Linked DNA regions of Homo sapiens. The protein of the gene in region 1 interacts with the protein of each later gene in a pairwise test. Each region holds a gene or a part of one and is shown in the gene's direction. Other genes may lie near its edges.

Region 1 (3,500 bases):
GGGTTGGAGCGATTCTCTGGCCTCCATCTCCCAAGTAGCTGGGACTACAGGCATCTGCTACGATGCCCAGCTAATTTTCGTATTTTTAGTAGAGCTGGGGTTTCACCATGTTGGCCAGGCTGGTCTTGAACTCCTGGCGTCAAGTGATCCTCCCGCCTCTGTCTCCCAACAGTGCTGGGATTGCAGGCATGAAGGGCATTCCTTCTTGGATTGTCATCTTCCTTTCTCCTAAGGAGAGAACACTGGGATTTTTTGTTTTGAGTTCTTTGAATTCAGCTGGTAGAATCAGTGTTCTGTGGCTAGAAGTAATGATTTTCACTGGGCCAGTTTGGACTCTGAAGAGTAATGTATTTAAGGATCTTTCATGCAAAGTGAATGATTCTAGCCACATTCCCACCTAGAAAACTCCACCACAGTATCCTCAGGCCCAGGGCACTGGCCTCTCAGGGGCACTGGATGGTTTGTGCCGGGATTTAAAAAGTGAAATTTTCTTTCTCTTTAAGCAACTTATTTTCAACTCTCTCACCAACTGCCTGGGGCCCCGGAAGCTCTTACACAGTGGGAAATTATACAAGACCAAGAGCAACAAGGAACTGCACGGATTCCTCTTCAATGACTTCCTGCTTCTTACCTACATGGTCAAGCAGTTTGCTGTTTCCTCTGGCTCTGAGAAACTTTTCAGCTCGAAGTCCAATGCTCAATTCAAAATGTATAAAACGGTGAGTATCACGCGTCTGGGGGTAGCATCAGGGGCCTAATGAGGTGTTGCCTCTATCTTAAGGCCTTCCTGGCAGACCCTGAGCTGGCCTTACGGGACCCTCCTCACCTGGTTCCAGATCGCTCGTGCTTCCTTTGCTGCTTCCCACGGGAAGGGCCCCATGCAGCTGGGCACTCCCCACCTGCCACAGGCCATCAGCCAGATTCCAGCTGAGATTCTGGCTTCCTCCTGGCCAGCGTGACACCTGGGCTCACCACTGTGTGCATTCAGCATTGGGTCTCTGTAAGCCGAGCCCCAGCACAGCACCAGCGTTGCTAGCAGAGAGCCTTTTGCACCAGCCGTCATGGGCGCTTGGAGCTCCTGTCCCCACCCAGTCCCAACACCTGACCCACCTCGATAATGACTTTTCCAGAAATGGAGGCTTCATTGTTCTTACAAATGGAGGTTTCATTTGTTCTGTGTAGAAGACCTTAGACGCTAGACCCCTTTCTCCTTCTCAACAAGGCTCTTCAGAACAAACAGAACTCTCTCTGGACATAGGCGGGTGGAGTGTTCTAGCCCATCTCACAGCCTGTGTTTTGGCCCTAATTCTTTCAGCCCATTTTCCTGAATGAAGTCTTGGTGAAACTGCCCACAGACCCTTCCAGCGATGAGCCTGTCTTCCACATTTCCCACATTGATCGGGTCTACACCCTCCGAACAGACAACATTAATGAGAGGTCAGTCCTGACCATGTGTGGCCTGCCTTGAACTCTGGGAGAAGGCCTGGACGTCTCCCTCTGCCATAAACCCATCTCCAGCCGTGCTTAAGCCCCACTAATTCTGTATCCTGAACCTCTCTTAACACATCCCCTCTGCTCCAGTCCCATGGTAGGCCTTGGTCACTGCAGCTGCCTCCTAACATGCTTCCCGGCTTCTAGTCTCTCCCCACACCACTCAGCAGCCTTCCCAAATGGCAGATCAGCACCTGAGGCCCTGCTACAGTCCCTGCAGGGGCTGCCCGCAGGCGACAGCCCACTGTGCTTTGCTGGTTTCCGAGGCCTCCTTGGGCCACAGGCCTCAGCCCTCGTCCCTCCACCTGCAGACTTTCGCCCCTCAGGCGCCCTTGTGTGGGTGCCATCCCCGCTGTTCCCAGCTTCCTTCAGGCTGCAGCTCCAACAGTGCCTCCGCGGCGCCAACCCGGGGGGTGCTGCTGCTCCTCTGTGTGCGCTAGAACCCCTCGTGACAGGTATCATCCGTGGGGCCAATGCATCATCTGTCTCCAGGTCCCAGCGCCTTGCGAGTGCCTGGCATTTTGTGGTCAGCCAAGAAGGGTCACTACCAGCTCTCATACTCCATTAGCATAAGCATCTTTCAGTTGACTAATATCAGGTCTTTGATAGGAAACTTGTGAAAGTTGAGGTTAGCAAAAGACTGAAGAACATGTGCAGAGCTCTGGGGCTCCACGCTGACCTGTGAGGGTGGGATGCGGCCAACGGCTGCCCCTGCTTCTCCCGTAGGACCGCCTGGGTGCAGAAGATCAAGGCGGCGTCTGAGCAGTACATCGACACCGAGAAGAAGAAGCGTGAGAAAGCTTACCAAGGTATCAGGGTGCCCGGAGGGTGGGACGCAGCCCCCAGGGGCCCTAGGAATGCCGGCCACTGCTCCTGCAGTCAGGCTGATGATATAGGGACGGGTCTGAAAGACCAGACCTGCTGCGGGATCAGACCAGAGAGCCCTCCCCTCTTGAAGCTACTACTGCAAACCTCCCTGGGGCTCCTGCCCACACAGACACGGGCTGGCAGTGCCAGCTCCGGGACCTCCCTCTCTGCACCACCTCTATCCCCCCCACTCCACTGCACCTTCTCCACTCCTTTCTCTCCATGACTCACCTCACCTCTGCTTGGGCTGTGGTGCTCCATTACATGCCACACCTGTGGTCTGTCTCCCTTCAGCTCCTGAGCAGCCACTGCTCCTCCTCACCCTCCTCTAGGGCCTGCCATCCACCCTCTCCCTTTGCAGCCAGGGGGCCTAGACCCTAAGTCTGCCCTCTCCCCATCCTTCTGCCCCTGCCTCCTCCCCCTTCTCACTTCACCAGACTTCAGTCCACGTCCTGTCCCCACCAGTGACACCAGTGGCCTAGTTAGTGGCTCAGCTCACTTTCCCTGCCCCAGCTCCCTGCACTGATGGCAGTCACTGAGGCGCTGCCTTCCCTCTGGACCCCATGGCCGCCTTCCCAGTTCTTCTTCCACCCTTGCCCAGGCCTCTCCCCGACCTCTGTAGCGCTCTCCCTCGGGGACCCCACCGACCCCCAGCTTCAGGGTCAGGCTAGCCACACTCTCCCAAGCCCGCGCCTCTGAACAGCACCCTCCAGAGAACCACCTGCCCCGCTGCTCCCACATCACACATCGGCTTTTCCCAAGGGACCACCAGCCTCCTTCCAGCAGCAGCTCCTCCTGGGACCCTCTGTGGACAGTAGTGTGGTCCCTGGCCACCCAGGCCCCTCCCTGGCACCTCACACCTGGTCAGCTGCACTGCAGTCCTCCTCCCTCGCCACTTTCCCATCGCCCTTTCCTGTCCCCGTATCACAGGCCCCCGATCTCCCACCCAGGCTGCAGCACAAGGCTCTCTTTCCTCTCTGCCACCCATCCTCTTCATTTCTGGAGTATTCTTTTTTCCAGAGCTGCTCTTATACCTCTTCCTGCTGAAGTATCTTCCCTATTGCCTCCCAAATTAACGACACATTTCTTACCCCACACTCAGGGCCCATCCCCACTACTACCTGCCACCCAGCCCCATCCCT
Region 2 (3,500 bases), on another chromosome or scaffold:
GCTGTGTCGGAGACCTTCTCTGAGTCATCCTCCGACAGCACCCAGTTCAATCAGCCGGTTGGTGGCGGGGGGTTTCGGCGTGCCAACAGCGAGGCCTCAAGTAGTGAGGGCCAGTCGAGCCTGTCCAGCCTGGAGAAACTGATGATGGACTGGAACGAGGCATCATCTGCCCCCGGCTACAACTGGAACCAGAGTGTCCTCTTTCAGAGTAGCTCCAAGCCGGGCCGTGGACGGCGGAAGAAGGTGGACCTGTTCGAGGCCTCACATCTGGGCTTCCCGACATCCGCCTCTGCCGCTGCCTCAGGCTACCCATCCAAACGGAGCACTGGGCCCCGGCAGCCGCGAGGTGGACGGGGCGGTGGGGCCTGCTCAGCCAAGAAGGAGCGGGGTGGCGCAGCGGCCAAAGCCAAGTTCATCCCCAAGCCACAGCCAGTCAACCCACTGTTCCAGGACAGTCCTGACCTCGGCCTGGACTACTATAGCGGGGACAGCAGCATGTCACCACTGCCCTCACAGTCGAGGGCCTTCGGCGTGGGAGAGCGAGACCCCTGTGACTTCATAGGACCCTACTCCATGAACCCGTCCACGCCTTCCGATGGCACCTTTGGCCAAGGCTTCCACTGCGACTCGCCCAGCCTGGGTGCTCCCGAGCTTGATGGCAAGCATTTCCCACCGCTGGCCCACCCACCCACGGTGTTTGACGCCGGCCTGCAGAAGGCATACTCGCCCACCTGCTCGCCTACACTGGGCTTCAAGGAAGAGCTGCGGCCACCGCCCACAAAGCTGGCTGCCTGCGAGCCCCTCAAGCATGGACTCCAGGGGGCCAGCCTGGGCCACGCAGCTGCAGCCCAGGCCCACCTGAGCTGCCGGGACCTGCCGCTGGGCCAGCCCCACTACGATTCCCCCAGCTGCAAGGGCACAGCCTATTGGTACCCTCCAGGCTCAGCTGCCCGCAGCCCGCCCTATGAAGGCAAGGTGGGTACAGGGCTGCTGGCTGACTTCCTGGGCAGGACGGAGGCCGCGTGCCTCAGTGCCCCTCACCTGGCTAGCCCACCAGCCACGCCCAAGGCCGACAAGGAGCCACTGGAAATGGCCCGGCCCCCTGGCCCACCCCGTGGCCCTGCTGCAGCCGCTGCTGGCTATGGCTGCCCACTCCTTAGTGACTTGACCCTGTCCCCCGTGCCGAGGGACTCGCTGCTGCCCCTGCAGGACACCGCCTACAGGTACCCAGGCTTTATGCCCCAGGCGCATCCTGGCCTGGGTGGGGGCCCCAAGAGCGGCTTCCTGGGGCCCATGGCGGAACCTCACCCCGAGGACACATTCACCGTCACATCCCTGTAGTGCCAACTGAAGTGCCGACTGGACCGCGAGGTTTTGTTCCTGGGTGAGTCTGGGGATGTGGGCGCAGTGGGCAGAGGCCTGGGGGTGGGAAGAGGACATCAGAGCTTAGGCAAGGACAGAGGTATGGAGTGCAGGAAGCAAATGCAGGATTTAAGGGCAAGGCTGGGGACTGAGAGCAGGGTGTAGGGATTCAGGATTCGCTGTTGCGGACAGTCTCAGGAGGAGATGGGGTGCTTGGGCTGGGAACTCAGCAGGGGGCTTGAACGTTCGGGGGGGTCTTGTGAATTGAAATGGCCAGAGGACTACACACTGGATGGGGCCCTGTAGTTTGGTTTATTAAGCTTTCAATTATTTGTTCATGCTATGTCTTGGGCAGGAAGTGAGTATTTCCCAGGAAATACGCTGATAAGGGTGGGCATTTGTATCGCCCTGTGTGAGACAGGTGAAGGGAGAAGCAGGTTGGACGGTCGTCTACCCAGGGCCTATCCAGAGGACCAGCCCTGCTGGCACCCCCATTTCCCTGGGAGCTTCACTGATTCTAAGAGGCAGCCTGGTGAGGGCCAGGCCAAGAGTGGCCAGTGTGGCGTGGTCACACACTCTGCAAGGGCTTCACAGGATGGTCCAAAATGTCCTCTCTTGGCCTCCCAAGGTACCCCCAAAGGCTATTTTCCAACATCTTTGGTCTGAGATAGGCTAGGTGTGGCCAGGAGCATGTGGGGTAGGGACCCAGAAGTGGAGAAGGGGTGCTGGGGTCCCACTGTCCCTGCAAACCTGCAGCCAGTGAGGCTATCTTCAGGCAAAGGTATTTTGACCCTAGAAAAGCCAGTCCCTTTCCTGAAGCCAAAGACTTTTCTGAGAGTTCAGTTAAAGAGTGTTAAATGTTTTGATACTGTTTTTATCAGGTACTGTGACCTCATTAGTTGGAGTCAGTTTTAGTATTCTCAAGATTTGGTGTTTTAAAAAAGGAAAATAAAAGACAGAAAATGCCCCCAAAATGATCAAAGGGAACAAGGTTGAAGGAGCCATCTTCTTGAAGAACAGCCTGCTCCCGAAATACAGCCGCCACTGGCCCCACTTTTGGACAACAGATCTGTCACAAAATTGGCCCAGATGTGGTGGTTGGTGATGGGGCAGACTGGGGGCATGCCTGCGTCCCTCACCCTTCACCTCTGCTGCCACTGAAGCTTCCTGGGAGTTTCTCTTCCTGGAGGAGTAGCTGGGCTCCTGGAAAGTCCCATCCGTGCTCTGGGAGGCCATTCAAGGCCAGGGTGACTCAGGGTCCTGAAGTCATGTCAGTGGAAACTTGTTGCCCCCTCTCTGCCAGACCCCAGCTCCCCTGGTGCCTGAAGGTGACAAAGGGCAGCATGCAGGAGTCCGGAGGCCTCCGGGAGGACCATTCCCAGATTGGCCACCAACTTCCCACATGCCCTTGACCAAGCTTTTGCCCCTCTCTGGGCCTCAGTTTCCCCATCTTTTCAAGGAAATTTACTTTGATAATCCCTTAGGCTCTCGCAGCTCTGCATGGCAGAGACAATGAAGCAAACTTTTTTTTTTTTTTTGGCAGCATCTTTTCCTTCCTGATGAAGCCAGGCCAAGATTAAAATGGCCTTCCATTCCCCATGCGTCTCATTGCAACCAGCAGAGCCTCAGATCTGAAGCAGGCCAGGGAGAAACTGCTTAGGGTTTAAAATGTCAAACTCTTGATCCTTCTCACTGGCGGGGAGATGTCTCATGGATAATCCAGAAATGTGAAATAATCCAAAAACCGTTCCTCCCAGGCTCTGGGTGGGAAAATGGACGGGTGTGGGGGCTGGGTGTTTGGGCAGGTCACAGCTCAGTGAAGTACATAATGGAACCACCCAGTGAGGCCTGAACGCAGGAGGAACTGGGATGCCATCCAGCCCCACATTCTGGCCCTGCTCCCCACTCAGGGCTGTGAGTTAACTGCGCTGTCCTCAAACCAATGCATTCCATTGTTCTAGAGACATCTGTCCAGCACCCACTAGAAGCCAGGCATTGGGGGCACCACAGTGAACACCACAAATGAGGTACTGGTCCTCAGGGGGCTTCCCATTTAGAGGGAAAGACAGCAAACAGTGGCATTAAGCATGTGTTGATTCCAGCTGTGGGAAGCACTGTACAAGAGAAAAAAGCTAGAA
Region 3 (3,500 bases), on another chromosome or scaffold:
TTGCAGTTCAGAATCAATGGATATAGGGACAAATGGAATTGTAAGAAAGAGAAGAGGAGGAAGGAAGCCTTATAGCCTCAATATAACTTTCTTATCTGGTATTAGGTTTGTGAATTTGGGGATTCAAGATCTCTGTCGGTGCTAGGATGACTTGGGTTTGCTTTTTGGGTATTCCATAGCCATGGCCCTTGGTTGGCCTTGACTCTGAGGCCATATTCCTGATTTTTTTTGCTGGACAAGCTTTCTTAACAAACCTGATACTCAGAGTCTGGCAGTGTAGAAAAAAGAGCATTGACCAGGGTTAGGGACACTGCATTACCCGGCTCTGCTGCTAACCAGATGCCTAGTACTGAGCAAGTCATTTTGCCTCTTTGAGTTCCAGTTTCCTTTTCTGTAAGTGGCAGATTTAGACTTGATCTAAGACACTTCCCAAGGCTAAAAATCTGTGATTCACCTAGGCCAGAAAATCTTAAATATTTTTGAAGTATGACCTTCTTGCCACATTTCATACCTGCTTTGACTCCCAGGAAGCTTAGGGCTAGAACAGTATCTAAAGACAGTACTCTCCCTACACTACATTTCTGGGATAATTGTGTCCTTAGGTACATTCCCTATAACTTGTGATAACCCATCTTTTTAAAAAATACTCCTCTTGCATACATGAGGTTTTCCTAAGGTACCTCAAAATAAAAGCAAAAGCTAATATTTTCATATACGTTACTACACCAGCTGCCCAGTCCCATGAGAAATAAGTACATGAAACTTGTTTCTTTGACTTTCTCTGTTAAAAAAAAGAATCCCAATAAGAAATTGGCTGGGCATGGCCGGGAGCGGTGGCTCACGCCTGTAATCCCAGCCCTTTGGGAGGCCGAGGCGGGCGGATCACGAGGTCAGGAGTTTGAGACCATCCTGGCTAACACGGTGAAACCCTGTCTCTACTAAAAATACAAAAAATTAGTCGGGCGAGGTGGCGGGCGCCTGTAGTCCCAGCTACTCGGGAGGCTGAGGCAGGAGAATGGCGTGAACCTGGGAGGCGGAGCTTGCAGTGAGCCGAGATGGCACCACTGCACTCCAGCCTGAGTGACAGATCAAGACTCCATCTCAAAAAAAAAAAAAAAAAAAAAAAAAAACAACTGGCTGGGCATAGTGGCTTATGCCTGTAATCCCAGCACTTTGGGAGGCTGGAGCAGAAGGATTTCTGCTTTGAAGTTTGAGACCTGTCTGGACAACATGGCAAAACCCTGTCTCTACAAAAAATACAAAAATTAGCTGGGCATGGTGGTGTGTACCTGTTGTCCTAGCTACTTGGGAGGCTGAGGTGGGAGGATCACCTGAGCCTTGGAGGTTGAGGCTGCAGTGAGCTGTGACTGAGCCACTGCATTCCAGCCTGGGGATCAACAGAGTGACACCCTGTCTCAAAAAAAAAAAAAAAAAAGAAATGCAATGGAAAATTGATAATGGGGATGAATTAATAGTAGAGACAATAATTGTGGAGTTATTGATTGTAGGGCTATTGAAACTACAGGGAGACAAATTTTAGGAAAAACTTCCTAATTATTAGAGCTGTGTGAAGGTGGAATGGGTTGCCTTTGAAGGTGGTAAGTGCCACATCTCCAGGAGTAAGAGAGTAGATACTGCAGACGTGCTGTAAAGGGATTTAGCTTTGGGGCCAGGGTTGGGCCATGTGACCTTTACAGCCTTTTGATCATAACATTCCCTTACAAGAAGTTCCCCTTTTCACCAGGAACACATTTCTCTTCTGAATTCAATTTTCCTCCTTCACCTGGTATACCTGAGGTTTTTGACTCCCAACTGAAGAAATACTGGTCATGTTCCTACTCAGACCCCAGCAGTAAATAGCATGAAAAATACCTCACTTTATAATTTATGTAACCCTTTAAAATGGTAAAAGTCCCAGAATATTTACATGGCTATATGTCTATTTTTCTTAACTTTGAGATACCTTTTGATAAAAAGGACTATTTAATGAGATATTCACTAAGCCCATTTAAAATTTAGGCTAAATTTTAGACCATGTAAAGTTTAAAGTAAAGCTTAAAGATCAAAGAGAGTGGAGTGGGTAATAGAGTAGAGGAGGTTATTTTATTCTTGAAACTTAGATTACAGGTAGTCAATTATACTTTCTTTTGCTGCTATGCTAGCTAAACAATGCTTCTCAAATTTTAATGTGCACAGAAGGACCTGGGGATCTTGTAAATATGCATATACTGACTCCTTGGGTGGGGCCAAGATCCTGCATTTCTTTTTTTTTCTTTTTTCTTTTTTTTTTCTTTTTGAGATAGAGTCTCGCTCTGTCACCCAGGCTGGAATACAGTGGCGCAATCTCGGCTCACTGCTACCTCTGCCTCCCTGGGTTCGAGCAATTCTCCTGCCTCAGCCTCCCAAGTAGATGGAATTACAGGCATGCACCACCATGCCTGGCTGATTTTTGTATTTTTAGTAGTGATGGGGTTTCACCATGTTGGCCAGGCTGGTCTTGAACTCCTGACCTCAAGTGATCTGCCTGCCTCAGCCTCACAAAGTGTTGGGATTACAGGCGTGAGCCACCGCACCCAGCCAGATTCTGCATTTCTAACAAGCTCACAGGTGATGCTGATGCTGCTGGTCCAGGTACCACTGAGTACAAACAAGGGGTCTAAGCCACCTTTCTGTTGTCAGGTCAATGGTCATGTACCTCTGTCGCATGGGAAGTATTTTCTCTAATCTCCACTTCTCCGGAAATGGAGGCACCATCACATCAGGGCAGCTCCTGGACACCCATCAGTTAGATATAAAATTAGGCCAGTATTTGGTGCTTAGGCCATCAGACTTCAGGGTAGAGCTCCTGCGTTCTCTTCCTTTGCCCCTGCTCATAGATTCGGTGCGTTCACTCTGGCAGTTTTTAATCTTTCAGGTTTCTAGATGTTGGGATGGGGTGCTACTGAGATCACAATCTTTACTCTTTCTTCATTTAATAAGCCCCTTGATCAAAATTACTACTAAAATATGTTTTGGAGGTTTTATTTCCCACCCCACTCTCCAAATTTGTCAGCCACCTTAAAATTAAGCAGATGTTTTAATTGGAGTCTTCAGTGTGTTGGATCAGCCAGTTTATTTTCCAAGTTCTTCATCTGTAAAATGATGGGGTTGGACCAGATAATTTGGAAGGTTTCTTTCAGCCTCCAGCACTGTAATATACCATTATAAGTTTTCTAAGAAGATGGCAAATTCCCGAGAACCTTTTTAACTGATTCAGTTTAGTTCCAAAACGTTTGCAGTGATATATACCTGTGCATAGAAGACTGGACTATTGATCTGACTTTTTGGACTTGTTGGAAGATTATTTTAAATTAAGGAAGTGAGAAAACCCCAGGTACAGCACAGAAATTATTTCCTCTTTTTACTGGGGCTCTATTCTTTGCTTCAAATCTCAATGGAATATAAAAATAGATTCTGTTAGACTGTGTGGGAAAGGACTCTGTGGGTGATATTGAGTGTTT
Region 4 (3,500 bases), on another chromosome or scaffold:
CCGAGTAGCTGGGACTACAGGCGCCTGCCACCATGCCTGGCTAATTTTTTGTATTTTTAGAAGAGACGGGGTTTCACCGTGTTAGCCAGGATGGTCTCGATCTCCTGACCTCGTGATCCACCTGCCTCGGCCTCCCAAAGTGCTGGGATTACAGGAGTGAGCCACCGCGCCCGGCTCATCTTGTTTTTTAACTCACATTTTCATTCACACTTATGGAGTGCTATTACTGTGTGCTTACATGGCTGGATCGACACTAGGTCGGGGTACATAATGAGACTAATAGACTGGGAGGCAAGGAACATAAGCCGGAAGAGAGATCCTGAAGCAAGCAACTCTGTAGGTTCTGGGGAGTGAGTTTCAGATGTGGTGGAAACACAAGAGAGGAACTAATTCTCTCTGCTAGGAGAGCCAGCAGAGGTTTCCTAGAGGAACTGAGCCCCTCTCCAGTTCTATCTTTAACAATTAACATGTAGAGACTAGCCTGACCAACATGGTGAAACCTCATAAATACAAAAATTAGCCAGCCATGGTGGCAGGCACCTGTAATCCCAGCTACTCTGAAGGCTGGGGCAGGGGAATCACTTGAACCCGGGAGAGAGAGGTTGCAGTGAGCCGAGATCGTGCCATTGCACTGCAGCCTGGGCAACAGAGCAAAAACTCCATCTCACAAAAAAAAGAAAAAGAAAAGAAAAAGAAAAAAAAGAATAAGACCCAAGAAGCAAGAGAACGATACATCCAGTTATTGGGGTCATAGAGGGAAGGAGAGTTATTGTTTCAAATAATTTAAAAACAATTTGGTTTTTTTTTAAATATAGTTTTCTTTTCCTAGTTTTCTTTTTCTTTTTTTTTTTTTTTTTTTTTTTCTGAGATGGAGTCTGGCTCTGTCCCCCAGGCTGGAGTGCAGTGGTGCCATCTCTGCTCACTGCAAGCTCCGCCTCCCAGGTTCAAGCAATTCTCCTGCCTCAGCCTCCCGAATAGCTGGGATTACAGGCACCCACCACCACGCCCAGCTAATTTTTGTATTTTTAGTAGAGACAGGGTTTCACCATGTTGGCCAGGCTGGTCTCAAACTCCTGACCTCAGGTGATCCGCCCTCCTTGGCCCCCCAAAGTGCTGGGATTACAGGCGTGAGCCACCGCGCCCGGCCTCCTTTTTCTAGTTTTCTAGCTTTACCTCCACCTTCTCTCCCTACAGGCTTTGGAGTCAGCTTTCCTGCCCCACAGAGGTGACAGAGCTCTTCCAATAATGCGTTCAAGCTGTTTTAGGGGACACTGATTAAGTTCTGCCAAAAAAACACGGTCGCAGATGGCACCCTCAAGAGATCAATACCAGGCCTGCAGGGTTGCTCACGCCTGTAATCCCAGCACTTAAGGGAGGCCAAAGTGGGAGGACAGCTTGAGCCCAGGAGTTCGAGACCAAGCCTGGGCAATATAGTGAGACCTCCTCTCTACAAAAAATTAGCCAAGCGTGGTGGGGCCTGCCTGTAGTCCTAGCTACTCGGGAGGCTGGTGTGGAAGGATGGCTTGAGCCCAGGATGTGGAGGCTGCAGGAAGCAGAGATGGCGCCTGTGCACTCTAGCCTGGGCAACAGAGCAAGACCCTGTAAAGTGCAATACCTAATTTCCAAGAGAAATGTTAACGACTTTGCCCTTTTCTTCATTCCCCCAGATCCCTGCCCAAGACGGGTCTGGAGCCTGACTTCCGGGTGTCCATGACCCTGGCGGCTGCTTCCGGTCCGCCATGAAAGGGCTATCAGGCAGCCGCAGCCATCACCACGGGGTCACCTGCGACTCGGCCTGTGACTCGCTGTCGCACCACTCCGACCGCAAGCCCTACCTGCTGAGCCCAGTGGAGCACCACCCCGCAGACCACCCATACTACACCCAGCGGAACTCCTTCCAGGCTGAGTGCGTGGGCCCCTTCAGCGACCCGCTGGCCAGCAGCACCTTCCCCCGCAGGCACTACACCTCGCAGCAAGAGCTGAAGGACGAGTGTGCCCTGGTGCCCCGCACCCTGGCCACCAAGGCGAACCGCATCCCCGCCAACCTGCTGGACCAGTTCGAGCGGCAGCTGCCACTCAGCCGCGATGGCTATCACACCCTGCAGTACAAGCGCACGGCCGTGGAGCACCGCAGCGACAGCCCCGGCCGCATCCGCCACCTGGTGCACTCGGTCCAGAAGCTCTTCACCAAGTCGCACTCCCTGGAGGGGCCGTCCAAGGGCAGCGTCAACGGGGGCAAGGCCAGCCCTGACGAGGCGCAGGCGGCGCGCTATGGCAAACGCAGCAAGAGCAAGGAGCGGCGCGCGGAGCCCAAGGCCCGGCCCAGCACCTCCCCGGGCTGGTGGAGCTCGGACGACAACCTGGATGGTGACATGTGCATCTACCACGCCCCCTCGGGCGTGATGACCATGGGCAGGTGCCCCGACCGCTCGGCCTCACAGTACTTCCTGGAGGCCTACAACACCATCAGCGAGCAGGCGGTGAAGGCCTCCCGGAGCAACAACGACGTCAAGTGCTCCACCTGCGCCAACCTGCCGGTCAGCCTGGACACCCCGCTGCTGAAGAAGAGCGCCTGGTCCTCCACGCTCACCGTGAGCCGGGCCCGGGAGGTTTACCAGAAGGCCTCGGTGAACATGGACCAGGCCATGGTGAAGTCCGAGTCGTGTCAGCAAGAACGCTCCTGCCAGTACCTGCAGGTACCATTTCTGTCAATGATGGAGGCTTAGAAGTAGTACCTGGCATGCTTGTGTGGGCATTTCTCCTGGTTCTAGTCTTGGCACTACTCTGAATTGTCTATTAAGATAGGAACCTGTGCAAATTATTCGGCATCTCTGTGCCGAATTGCTCCTGTAGGGAAAATGAAAAGAAACAAATGCTACCGACCTCACCGGGTTATCTTAAGACACTAGATATCCAAGTGCTTTGAAAAGCACGCCTATGGAAAGGCAACCAGTTATTATGGGCTTCCTCTTTTGTCTGAGGGATCATAGGATGGGAAAGAGAGGAAAGGGAAGTCTACAGAGAATTTTAAAAGAAGTCCACCTTTCTTTAATTCAAAAATACGTGACGATCGTTTGAATTTTGGAAAGAGTTTCATTAGATCTATTCAGGGTTTTGTGGGGTGGTTTTCATTGTGAAATCCTGCCTGAAGCTATGTTAGAATACTGCGATGGTCATCATCATAACCATCAGTAACTACACCCCGACCTGAGCTTCCACATCGAGGGCACAGCAAATCAGGAAGACGCCCTGTGCCCTGAGGAGGTGGGGAGCTAGCCAGTTTGGGGACCTGACAAGCACAGCTGCAGACACCCAGGACAACAGAGAGGAGGAGGAAAAGGAGGAAGGATTAGAGAAGTAAAATACAATTAGTGTCAGCATGTAAATCCCACACACTTACAGAGCCACGGTAGGCTGCTCTTCCCCTGCCACTGTCTCCTTGTGTTTTCCTCCAGTTCACTGAAACCAGATGTTACCTGGATAAAAATATAGGAGAGAGA
Region 5 (3,500 bases), on another chromosome or scaffold:
CACCTGGGAGAAGAAATTCCACACAGCATCTTTTCCTACTACTGACACCTCCAGTGTCATAGGATCTGCTGGATCATATGGCCTAAGTCACATCCTGCTTGCACCACAGCCCGGACCTGCTGCAGAGCACTTTGCGTTGCTACAGCATATCGGAGGCTATCTATGCCCCACCTCCCACTACTGATGGGTCCTCACTGCCATCTGGCTGCTGGGTAACCCAGCTCCAGAATTGCATTAGACCACCCTTGTAGTTTGACTTCCATGGCCCACTGTTTTAGGTTGGGTTCCCTGGAAAAAGACTTTGAGGTGGAGATTTGCATGCAGGAGGCTTACTGGAGTGTGCCATTGGGATCAACACTTGTGAGGAGGGTTGGGTTGAGCAGAGGAAGAGGCTGGCTCAAGATGTAGTTGCCTTAGGGGCCTCCGCTGCTCTTAGGGGGAGCCCTGGGGCTGGGAGGGTCCTTCAGAGTCAGCCCAGATTGAGGCAAGGAGGCTGGCCTTTCTTTCCCTTCATAGACCAGACCATGGGGATGCCCTCATGAAGTAGGTGTAACCTTGGACAAGGCAGTTCCCTGTGACAAGACAATTCCCAGTGGGGACACAGCCATGAGCTGTCAGTAGCTGCCATTCAAGGTACATTGTCCCTGAAGAGGAGGCCTGAGCAGACCACCACAGTATCCAACTACACTTATGGTCAGAAAAGTTTTAGAAACAGTGATACACCCTCATCATCCCCACTCATCAGTTTATAGATGAAAAATGTGCAGGGCTGAGAGAGATTCTCTCTCAACACTTCTGAGGGGATAGTGTCAGCGATGGTGTGTGTGTGTGTGTGTGTGTGTGTGTGTGTGTCAGAGAGAGAGCAAGGAAAAAGAAGTAGCTGTACTTGGGGTCTCTTGCATATGTCAGTCAAGTCACCAGGGTCCATTTGTGCCGTGTGTGTGTGTGTGTGTGTGTGTGTGTGTGTGTGTCTGTCCAAGACCCTGATTGTATGTGTGTCAGTGACCAGTAGCCCTGAAAGTGTCTCTCCCCCTCATCCCCCTTCCATGATAAACCTGATTGAGGATGAGCTTCCATCCCTGGAGCAAGCAGCCTGTTGGCTAGAAATCTTGAGCCTGGGGGAGGAGGCCACCGGAAACCAAGCCCAGCTGGGGACGGGCCCGGGGACAATGACATAGCAGTTCGTGATGTTCCTACTGCTGCTCCCACTCCCCCTCCCTCCTGTTGCTCCCTCTCCTCCTCAGCTGCATTCCTCCCTGCCCCCCATCATTGCCAGCTACACTGGCTTCTCTAGAGCCACCCAGCCTGCACCACTCAATCCACTCCTCCTTATCGGATGCAGCTGCCCACCTATGGCCATTGTGTTTCTCACAGCACACAACCACACATGGTGAATGTGCTCCTCCTTGCGAAAGGGCCAGAGAGCAGAGAGATGCTTCAGGCCACACAGCCAGACACAGGCACTGACATATACACAGGCACTAAAAAATACACAAAAACAGGCACGCTTCAGAGAAATGTAGTTTCTTTCTCTCCTTCCTTCCTTCCTTCCCCTTCCTTCCTTCCCCTTCCTTCCTTCCTTCCTTCCTTCCTTCCTTCCTTCCTTCCTTCCTTCCTTCCTTCCTTCCTTCCTTTCTCTTTATTTCTTTCTCTTTTTTGCCTAGGTCTTGCTCTGTTCCCCAAGCTGGAGTGCAGTGGTGCAATCACGGCTCACTACAGCCTCGACCTCCTGGGCTCAAGCCATTCTCCTGCCTCAGCCTCCCCAGTAGCTGGGACTACAGGCATGCACCACTATGCCTGGCTAGTTTTTGTTTTTTGGGTTTTTTGGAGATGGAGTCTCGCTCTTGTTGCCCAGGCTGGAGTGTAATAGCACCATTTTGGCTCACTGCAACTTCCGCCTCCTGGGTCCAAGTGATTCTCCTGCCTCAGCCTCCCAAGTAGCTGGGAATACAGGCATGCACCACTACACCTGGCTAATTTTGTATTTTAGTAGAGAAGGGGTTTCACCATGTTGGTCAGGCTGGTCTCGAACTCTTGACCTCAGGTGATCCACCCGCCTTGGCCTCTCAAAGTTGTGGGATTATAGACGTGAGCCACAGCCCTCGGCTTTTGTTTTTTTTTTTTTTTTTTCAATTTTTTTTGTAGAGATGGGGGTCTCTCTATATTGTCCAGGGTGGTCTCCAACCCTTGGCCTGAAGCAATCCTCCTACCTCCAGCCTCCCAAAGTGCTGAGATTACAGGCGTAAGCCACCGTACCTGGCCAGATAGGTGTTTTCTAAGGTTCTTTGCTGTTTACCGGTCTCCATGCAATTTCAAAGTATGTTCTAATTTACATAGTGCTGCTAATTTTGTGAAGTTTTTTTAAAAAATTTACAATGACAATGTGATGAGCAGACTAAATTTTGGGAAATACCTGCTCTCTGCAGTGTAAGGCCACATTTTACAGTTTGCAATGTCCTTTAATATTTTTGCAACTCCATGAGGATTACAACAGACATTATTCACAAAGCACTCTTGATTTTTTCAAAATATTTCAATAATTATAAGGCACTTTGTGGTTTCTTTAGTAGCATTGAAGGGGCAAAAGGGTCAAGGGCCTGTGTTTTGTCTTCCCTTCTGAGATTTCATCATTGACAGATGTGTTGTTTTTCCTCTCCAGGGCAAAATACTTCAAAGGGAAAAAGATCCATGGAGAAATTGACATTAAAGTAGAACAGGTAAGTTGGGACATTTGGACCTGGGGGTCAGTTGTCCATACTGCAAACTGAGTGGCCATTTTTGTGTGATGTAGGTGAATCACCAGTTTTTTTCTCCTTCCCAGGCCGAATTCTCTGATCTCAACCTTGTGGCCCATGCCAATGGTGGATTCTCTGTGGATATGGAAGTTCTTCGGAATGGGGTGAAGGTCGTGCGGTGAGTATAAGAAGGGTACCTTGGTGTTATGAGCAAGGCATAAGAACTCTCCCTTAGAGCTGGGGGAAAGTTCCTACCTCCCCACCCATCCTTCTGTGGGCAAGAACTTAGGCATGGAATGTGGGGAGACAACTTTTCTTCAGAAAAAGAGCCAGGGACCCCAGGATGCCACAAGTCAGACTTTAAAAAAAAATATATATATATATATATATATTTCAGACAGGGTCTTGCTCTGTCTCCCAGGCTGGAGTGCACTGGCACAATCATGGCTCTCTGCAGCTGCAACCTCTCAGGCTCAAGTGATCCTCCCACCTCAGCCTCCCAAGTAGCTGAGACTACAGGTGCGCACCACCATGCCTAGCTAATTTTTATGTTTTTTGTAGAGATGGGGGGGGTCCTCACTATGTTGCCCAGGTTTGTCTCAAACTTCTGGGCTCAAACAATCTACCTGCCTTGTCCTCTCAAAGTGCTGGGATTACAGGCATGAGCCGCCACACCCAGCCTTCAATTATTAATTAAATAAACATTTGCTAGACATCTGCTGCATGCCAGATGCTGCTCTCAGGACTTCATATTCAATAAATATT
Region 6 (2,676 bases), on another chromosome or scaffold:
ATGGGTGAATTTTATATGTGATTTTTGTTTTGTTTTGTTTTGTTCAGATTAACTGCTTATAGCCTTAGAAAGCCTTTTACAAAATTAAAAAAAAAATAGATGTGCATTCAGTTTTTAAGAATGGAATCATCCAAAGGAATTCCTTTTTTTGAGGTTTGGATGTTGCAGCTAGTAAAGGATATTTTTGCTCTGTTCAGCAGTTCTAAAAATTGCTGAAGTAGGGGCCAGGTCACTGGTAGTTATAGTATGGAATGGGAGAAGTGAAAGTTCAGTTATAGAACTTTCCATACTTCCAAGTTTACTGCAAGTTTTTATGCTTGAGAGAGATGCTTTCTAATATAAGACTGATGTGTTGATTTTACTGATTGTACTGTACATCTATTAAAGCCTTAGATTATTACATTACGGGTTGGAACCCATACCAATGTAATTTCAATCGTGTTAAGAAAGTAATGGTGACTTCACATGTTATTGTAGTTAGTTACATTATAGAATATTACTTATTTTTCTTGTTAAAATGTAGTTTTTCATTTCCTACATTTATTAGATTTTCATTTTCTATTAACAATTGAATACCATTTCAGTTTATAGACTTGTTTTATTAGATTTTACCAATGAATTTTTCAAAATACAAAAAAAAGTAGTTTTTCCTTCATAACATACTCAGTTTTGAATTACATGTAGTGTCACATGAATATTCGTATTGTTAACTAAATGATTTATATTTTACTGATTTAATATTACAGTGTAAGAATGTCAGTCATTGTTAGTTCTTGTCTAGTTTTCATTAAAAGAACAAAGATCTTTTATATGGATATCTTATAAATATATAATCATTGCTAAGTAAGAAGTTAAGTTGTTGCTATCGCAACAATCCTGGCAGACAATTGAGTAATATTTTGATGATTTATTTTGTTTGTAATTAGTTATTATAAGAAGATCTAGATCCTAGATATTAGAATAAAATTTATTTTCTACTGTATCCATTTCAAATGTTAAAATATTGTTTAATATTTTTGAAATCCCTGAGTATCAGGCCTTGTTATAAATAAGCTGCATAATCAATAAATAGAACAAGGGACTTTTTGTTGATAATCCAAATACTCAAAGTTTACGTAATGAAAATTATAGCGTGTGTGCAAACTCTTGAGGGTTGATTATGCTGCAATTTAGCATGTTGGAACGTCTAGGGAGAAGGTTGACTTTTTGCACTTCTGTATATAGTCAAAAGAGAGAAACCTGTATAATAGTAAGATCTTATTTTGAATAAAAACGTCTATAATTACAAGGAGTTTTGTTAAGGCTAATACAATGACAGACTGAGCAAAATTGCTTGCAAAAGTGGCACAGAGTTAGCACTCCATACCCCTTCAAACATGTTGCTTTGCTTTCTTGTGGACAGCTTGTAGTTTGCCAGGATTTTTTCAGCTGGAAAGATACGCCATCCTTTCAAACCCTCATGACTGACAAAAACTCCATGGGGCCAAATCTGCCTGAAGATCATTACCAAAAATAGCAGGTACTTCTACCATTAAGGTGAAATCATGGATCAGATATTCCTTACATTTTTCAAAACTACTGCATGTTTAAAACTTCAACAAAAAAAGAGAGAAAGAACTATACTAAGAACATATATTATTCAGATCAGTTTCTGCCAATTTCAGTGGTTTATTGTTCACAAAAAAATCTTCAAAACAAGTATTGACTTTCACAAAATTTAAATCATAAACAGGCAAACCAAACAGCACACTGTAGCTATAGTTGTTATGTGATTGTTTTTTAATTGCTGTAGGATCCTGTTCTTTCAGCAGGTGAAAAATAAAACGCAGTTCAAATTTCATGGTTTTAATTTTCAACTCAGAAGCACTCAAAAATGCAAAATGTGATAATGGGCACTTGTTTAAAAGAATTAGTGTATCCAGCCTTCACTCCAGCTGGTTAAAAATGTTGCACTTATCAGCAACCCTACCACTTTCATCTGCTGAAAGGACAAATGTGCTTGGTTTTACTATTATGTAATCACAACTTACTTTCTGCTTGTAGTTGCTTAAAATTATGTATTTTGTCTTGGGCTGCAATTTGTTTTATGCTTATTTTATTATTACTGCAGTAGTTGACTTTGCTGTATGGAAAAATAAAGTGAAATTGCCCTAATAAAACTTCTCTTTCTTAAGTATATTCGTGTATCTGAGATTGAATACTAAATTATTTTTGCGTGTTTCATGTATTCATGCATATGTATCTATCTTTACAAACATATTGATGTATAAATTTGTTACCTGGTTTTAACTGATTGCAACTGCGAGGAAGGCATTTGTTGTCTTTCTCACTAATTATCCTTTGACACTGAGAGGGAGAATCTAAATCAGCATATATTGCCCTCCTGTGCCCAATGTTTTCTGAAATTCTTGCCTTCCCCTGTCTGACACTTTAAGCGCTGATTGAAATAGTTTTAAGTGTCAGGGCAAAAAACGGTAAGAAAAAAATTATTATACATTATAGATCACTATCTATCTTTTATTAAAGAAATCTTATTTGCCTGACTGCTGCGTCAGCTGATTAGGACTGGAAATCAGGCAATCCAAGAGAGGTGATGGCACTGTATTCAGAGGGATGAAAGAAATTATGCATATGATCTATGAGGCAGGCCATGATATTACTCCTGAGGGGTGTGTG
Region 7 (3,500 bases), on another chromosome or scaffold:
GGACAAAGAACCACAGAATGAGAAAGATGAGGGGTCCATCAGGGGTAGGTAGGACCCAGGAAATCACACCTTTAGACCAGAAGCAACAGCAATCAGAAATGCAAGGGTTGGCCGGGCACAGTGGCTCATGCCTGTTAACCCCAGCACTTTGGGAGACCGAGGCAGGCGGATCACCTGTGAGACCAGCCTGGCCAACACAGTGAAATCCCGTCTCTACTAAAAATACAAAAATTAGATGGGCGTGGTGGCAGGCTTCTGTAGTCCTAGTTACTCAGGAGGCTGAGGCAGGAAAATTGCTTGAATCTGGGAGGCGGAGGTTGCAGTGAGCCAAGATCATGCCATTGTACTCCATCCTGGGCGACAAGAGCAAAACTCCATCTCAAAAAAAAAAAAAGGTTGAGTCAGAATCTGCATTTCAGCAAGGCGGGCACTCGTGTGCAACGGGGAGCATAAGGACCTCTGTTTAGGTAGTTCATGTTTAGGAGGGCTGCGAACAGGTGGGTTCTGGCATAAGACCTTGATGTCAAGGAGATCACTGGGTGGCTGTCCAGGCCAGACAAAATGTGGCCTGGCCTGTGAGGGAGATGGTGGAAGTGTGGAAGGGGTAAGAAGGACAGGGCTTGGTGACACATTTCCATGGAGGTGAAAGAGGAAGAGATATAACAGAGGGCCACTTGAGCAGCCAGGTGACATCACCAACTGAGGCAGGAAGTCTCCAGGAGGACAGGAAGCTGGGTGCGTGTGAAACCCCCGAGGGCACCCAGCGGTGGCGGCCTCAGGCGGTGGAGCACATGGCAGCAAGGATGGGGCAGAGGGACGCTGGGGGGATGGTGATGGTTTGCTTCCTGGTGACTTTCTGTCTTAAGAGTGACAGCTGTGGTGTGGGGAGTTGCTACAGAATGATGTCAGGAGGTCTTCCCTTGAGAAAAGACCCATCAGTGCATTCTGTTGGGGTGGTTTCTGTTTTGTTTTAAATCATGGTTCACTTCGTAGGACTGATGTCTGCACTGGGCTGGGTCTTTTGGTTCTGCAGATTGAAAAGTTACAAACCCAGCTGGAGAGAGAAAAGCAGAGCAACCAAGATCTGGAGACCCTCAGTGAGGAGCTGATCAGAGAGAAGGAGCAGCTGCAGAGTGACATGGAGACCCTGAAGGCTGACAAAGCCAGGCAGGTAGGTGCCTCCACCACTAACGCCTCTCCTAGAACCCCTGCCTGCAAGACGGAGAGCCGGGATTACAGCCATTCCTGGTACTGTATTGTGGATGCATGGATTATCCGTTACCTAGCTTAGCCACAGCTTAAATCAGCAATTCTCAATTTCCCAACTGGCGGTGGGAAAAGGTGGGGTGAATTTTGCCTCCCAAGGGACATTTGGCAATGTCTCAAGACATTTTTGATTGTCGTGACCCCGGGGAAGAGAGGGGGTGGTGCTCCTGGCATGGAGTGGGTGGAGGCCAAGGATGCTGCTACATATTCTGCAGTGCGCAGGTCAGGAACACTCCATCTGCAAATGTTCTTAGTGCCCCAGCTGAGAACCCTGGCAAATCCGTGTGGTTTTATTTGCCTCACACGGCGGGCAGTCCAGGGCTGATGTAGTGGCTCAGGGATGCCATCAGGAACCAGGCCTCTTGCCTACAGCTCTGCCAGCCTTAGCAGTGGCTGCTGCACATCCCTAAGGTACAAGCAGGAGAAAGGTGGAGGGCTTAGCATCACAGGGAAACCCTCCCAAGGATGCTCCGTAGACGTCACGTTGGCCAGAACTAACGTGTGGCTACCTCTGCCTGCAAAGAATGCCAGGGCACCAAGTATTTTAGTTTTTTGTTTTTGTTTATGTTTTCTTTTGTTTAATAGAGATGGGATCTCACAGTGTTGCCCAGGCCGGTCTCGAACTCCTGGGCTCAAGTGATCCTCCCGTCTTAGCTTCCCAAAGTGTTGGGATTACAGGCATGAGCCACCATCACTGGCCCCAAGTATTTTAGCTTTTTGGCATCTGTAGTAGAGGAATAAAAAGCCCAGAGAAGATGGTTAGAATGGTGCATGGTAAACAGACGGACAGGGCCCTGCCCAGATGTTGCTCACAGCCAGGAAGGCACACTTCCAGGTGACAGGCAAGATGATCTCAGGAGGGTGCTACTGAGAGAATAGGGTGCTGAGGGAGAGAATACTGGGATACACGGCTACCTTAGAATCATCATGCCAGGATGTTTTGGGGAACTGACCCCAAGTATAAGAAAGAGCCAGTGAGGCTGATAGCCAGAGGAAAGTACTCCAGGCAGAGGGATCAGCATGTGCAAAGTGTTCACAGTCAGCTGGGCTAGGAGCAGTGAGCAGGAGGTGGAGAGTAGTGTAAGCAGAGGCTGCAGAGGTGGGCAGGGCCCGGCTACCAGAGACCAAGAGAAACCGCTGAAACTTAAGTGAGGGAGAGAGATGTATTTACATTTTAAAATCATCCTGGCTGCTCTGAGTGTATTCTGACTTGAACCATCTAAGTGGTGGTGTCTGTGCCCACTCACCTGTGTCTGTCAAGCCTCTGGGGAACGCACAGGCAGTGTCTGAGCACAGGTAGGACAGCCGTTCAAGGCCTTCTCTCTCCCATCCCCAGTGTGAGCCCATGTCACTGAAATAGGTTCCTGCAGCAGCCTGGGTTGTGCCTGTTGTGTTTTCCCGTAGATCAAGGACCTTGAGCAGGAAAAGGACCACCTCAACCGAGCCATGTGGTCGCTGCGGGAGAGGTCGCAGGTCAGCAGTGAGGCCCGCATGAAAGACGTGGAGAAGGAGAACAAAGCCCTCCACCAGACGGTGACGGAGGCCAATGGCAAGCTCAGCCAGTTGGAGTTTGAGAAGCGGCAGCTGCACAGGGACTTGGAGCAGGCCAAGGAGAAGGGGGAGCGGGCAGAGAAGCTGGAGAGGGAGCTACAGCGACTCCAGGAGGAGAACGGGAGGCTGGCCAGGAAGGTGACCTCCCTGGAGACAGCCACCGAGAAAGTCGAGGCCCTGGAGCATGAGAGCCAGGGCCTGCAGCTGGAGAACCGGACTCTGAGGAAGTCTCTGGACACCTTGCAGAACGTGTCCCTGCAGCTTGAGGGCCTGGAGCGTGACAACAAGCAGCTGGACGCAGAGAACCTGGAGCTGCGCAGGCTGGTGGAGACCATGCGCTTCACCAGCACCAAGCTGGCACAGATGGAGAGGGAGAACCAGCAGCTGGAGCGTGAGAAGGAGGAGCTGAGGAAGAACGTGGATCTGCTCAAGGCGCTGGGCAAGAAGTCAGAGCGCCTGGAGCTCAGCTACCAGAGCGTGAGCGCTGAGAACCTCCGGCTGCAGCAGAGCCTGGAGAGCAGCAGCCACAAGACGCAGACCTTGGAGAGTGAGCTGGGCGAGCTGGAGGCTGAGCGCCAGGCGCTGCGGCGGGACCTGGAGGCCCTCCGGCTGGCCAATGCACAGTTGGAGGGGGCCGAGAAGGACAGGAAGGCCCTGGAGCAGGAGGTGGCCCAGCTCGAGAA

What was found.
Region 2: the proteins of ITSN2 (region 1) and AHDC1 interact in a two-hybrid assay, tested with the Homo sapiens proteins (one large-scale study listed by BioGRID).
Region 3: the proteins of ITSN2 (region 1) and PIK3AP1 interact in a two-hybrid assay, tested with the Homo sapiens proteins (one large-scale study listed by BioGRID).
Region 4: the proteins of ITSN2 (region 1) and DLGAP1 interact in a two-hybrid assay, tested with the Homo sapiens proteins (one large-scale study listed by BioGRID).
Region 5: the proteins of ITSN2 (region 1) and SYN1 interact in a two-hybrid assay, tested with the Homo sapiens proteins (one large-scale study listed by BioGRID).
Region 6: the proteins of ITSN2 (region 1) and MBNL1 interact in a two-hybrid assay, tested with the Homo sapiens proteins (one large-scale study listed by BioGRID).
Region 7: the proteins of ITSN2 (region 1) and CCDC88C interact in a two-hybrid assay, tested with the Homo sapiens proteins (one large-scale study listed by BioGRID).

What each region holds. Positions count from the first base shown.
Region 1 is NC_000002.12:24,207,037-24,210,536, reverse strand, and holds part of ITSN2 (intersectin-2), read left to right. Parts: intron 1-503; coding exon 504-719; intron 720-1,315; coding exon 1,316-1,437; intron 1,438-2,217; coding exon 2,218-2,300; intron 2,301-3,500.
Region 2 is NC_000001.11:27,545,145-27,548,644, reverse strand, and holds part of AHDC1 (transcription factor Gibbin), read left to right. Parts: coding exon 1-1,341; 3' UTR 1,342-1,384; intron 1,385-3,323; exon of another isoform or gene 3,324-3,389; intron 3,390-3,500. UniProt on the Homo sapiens protein: Transcription factor required for the proper patterning of the epidermis, which plays a key role in early epithelial morphogenesis. Directly binds promoter and enhancer regions and acts by maintaining local enhancer-promoter chromatin architecture.
Region 3 is NC_000010.11:96,703,515-96,707,014, reverse strand, and holds part of PIK3AP1 (phosphoinositide 3-kinase adapter protein 1), read left to right. Parts: intron 1-3,500. UniProt on the Homo sapiens protein: Signaling adapter that contributes to B-cell development by linking B-cell receptor (BCR) signaling to the phosphoinositide 3-kinase (PI3K)-Akt signaling pathway.
Region 4 is NC_000018.10:3,878,308-3,881,807, reverse strand, and holds part of DLGAP1 (disks large-associated protein 1), read left to right. Parts: intron 1-1,667; 5' UTR 1,668-1,739; coding exon 1,740-2,696; intron 2,697-3,400; exon of another isoform or gene 3,401-3,476; intron 3,477-3,500. UniProt on the Homo sapiens protein: Part of the postsynaptic scaffold in neuronal cells.
Region 5 is NC_000023.11:47,606,358-47,609,857, reverse strand, and holds part of SYN1 (synapsin-1), read left to right. Parts: intron 1-2,659; coding exon 2,660-2,717; intron 2,718-2,821; coding exon 2,822-2,913; intron 2,914-3,500. UniProt on the Homo sapiens protein: Neuronal phosphoprotein that coats synaptic vesicles, and binds to the cytoskeleton. Acts as a regulator of synaptic vesicles trafficking, involved in the control of neurotransmitter release at the pre-synaptic terminal.
Region 6 is NC_000003.12:152,463,605-152,466,280, forward strand, and holds the end of MBNL1 (muscleblind-like protein 1), read left to right. Parts: 3' UTR 1-2,176; downstream 2,177-2,676. UniProt on the Homo sapiens protein: Mediates pre-mRNA alternative splicing regulation. Acts either as activator or repressor of splicing on specific pre-mRNA targets. Inhibits cardiac troponin-T (TNNT2) pre-mRNA exon inclusion but induces insulin receptor (IR) pre-mRNA exon inclusion in muscle.
Region 7 is NC_000014.9:91,313,321-91,316,820, reverse strand, and holds part of CCDC88C (protein Daple), read left to right. Parts: intron 1-1,033; coding exon 1,034-1,171; intron 1,172-2,670; coding exon 2,671-3,500. UniProt on the Homo sapiens protein: Required for activation of guanine nucleotide-binding proteins (G-proteins) during non-canonical Wnt signaling. Binds to ligand-activated Wnt receptor FZD7, displacing DVL1 from the FZD7 receptor and leading to inhibition of canonical Wnt signaling.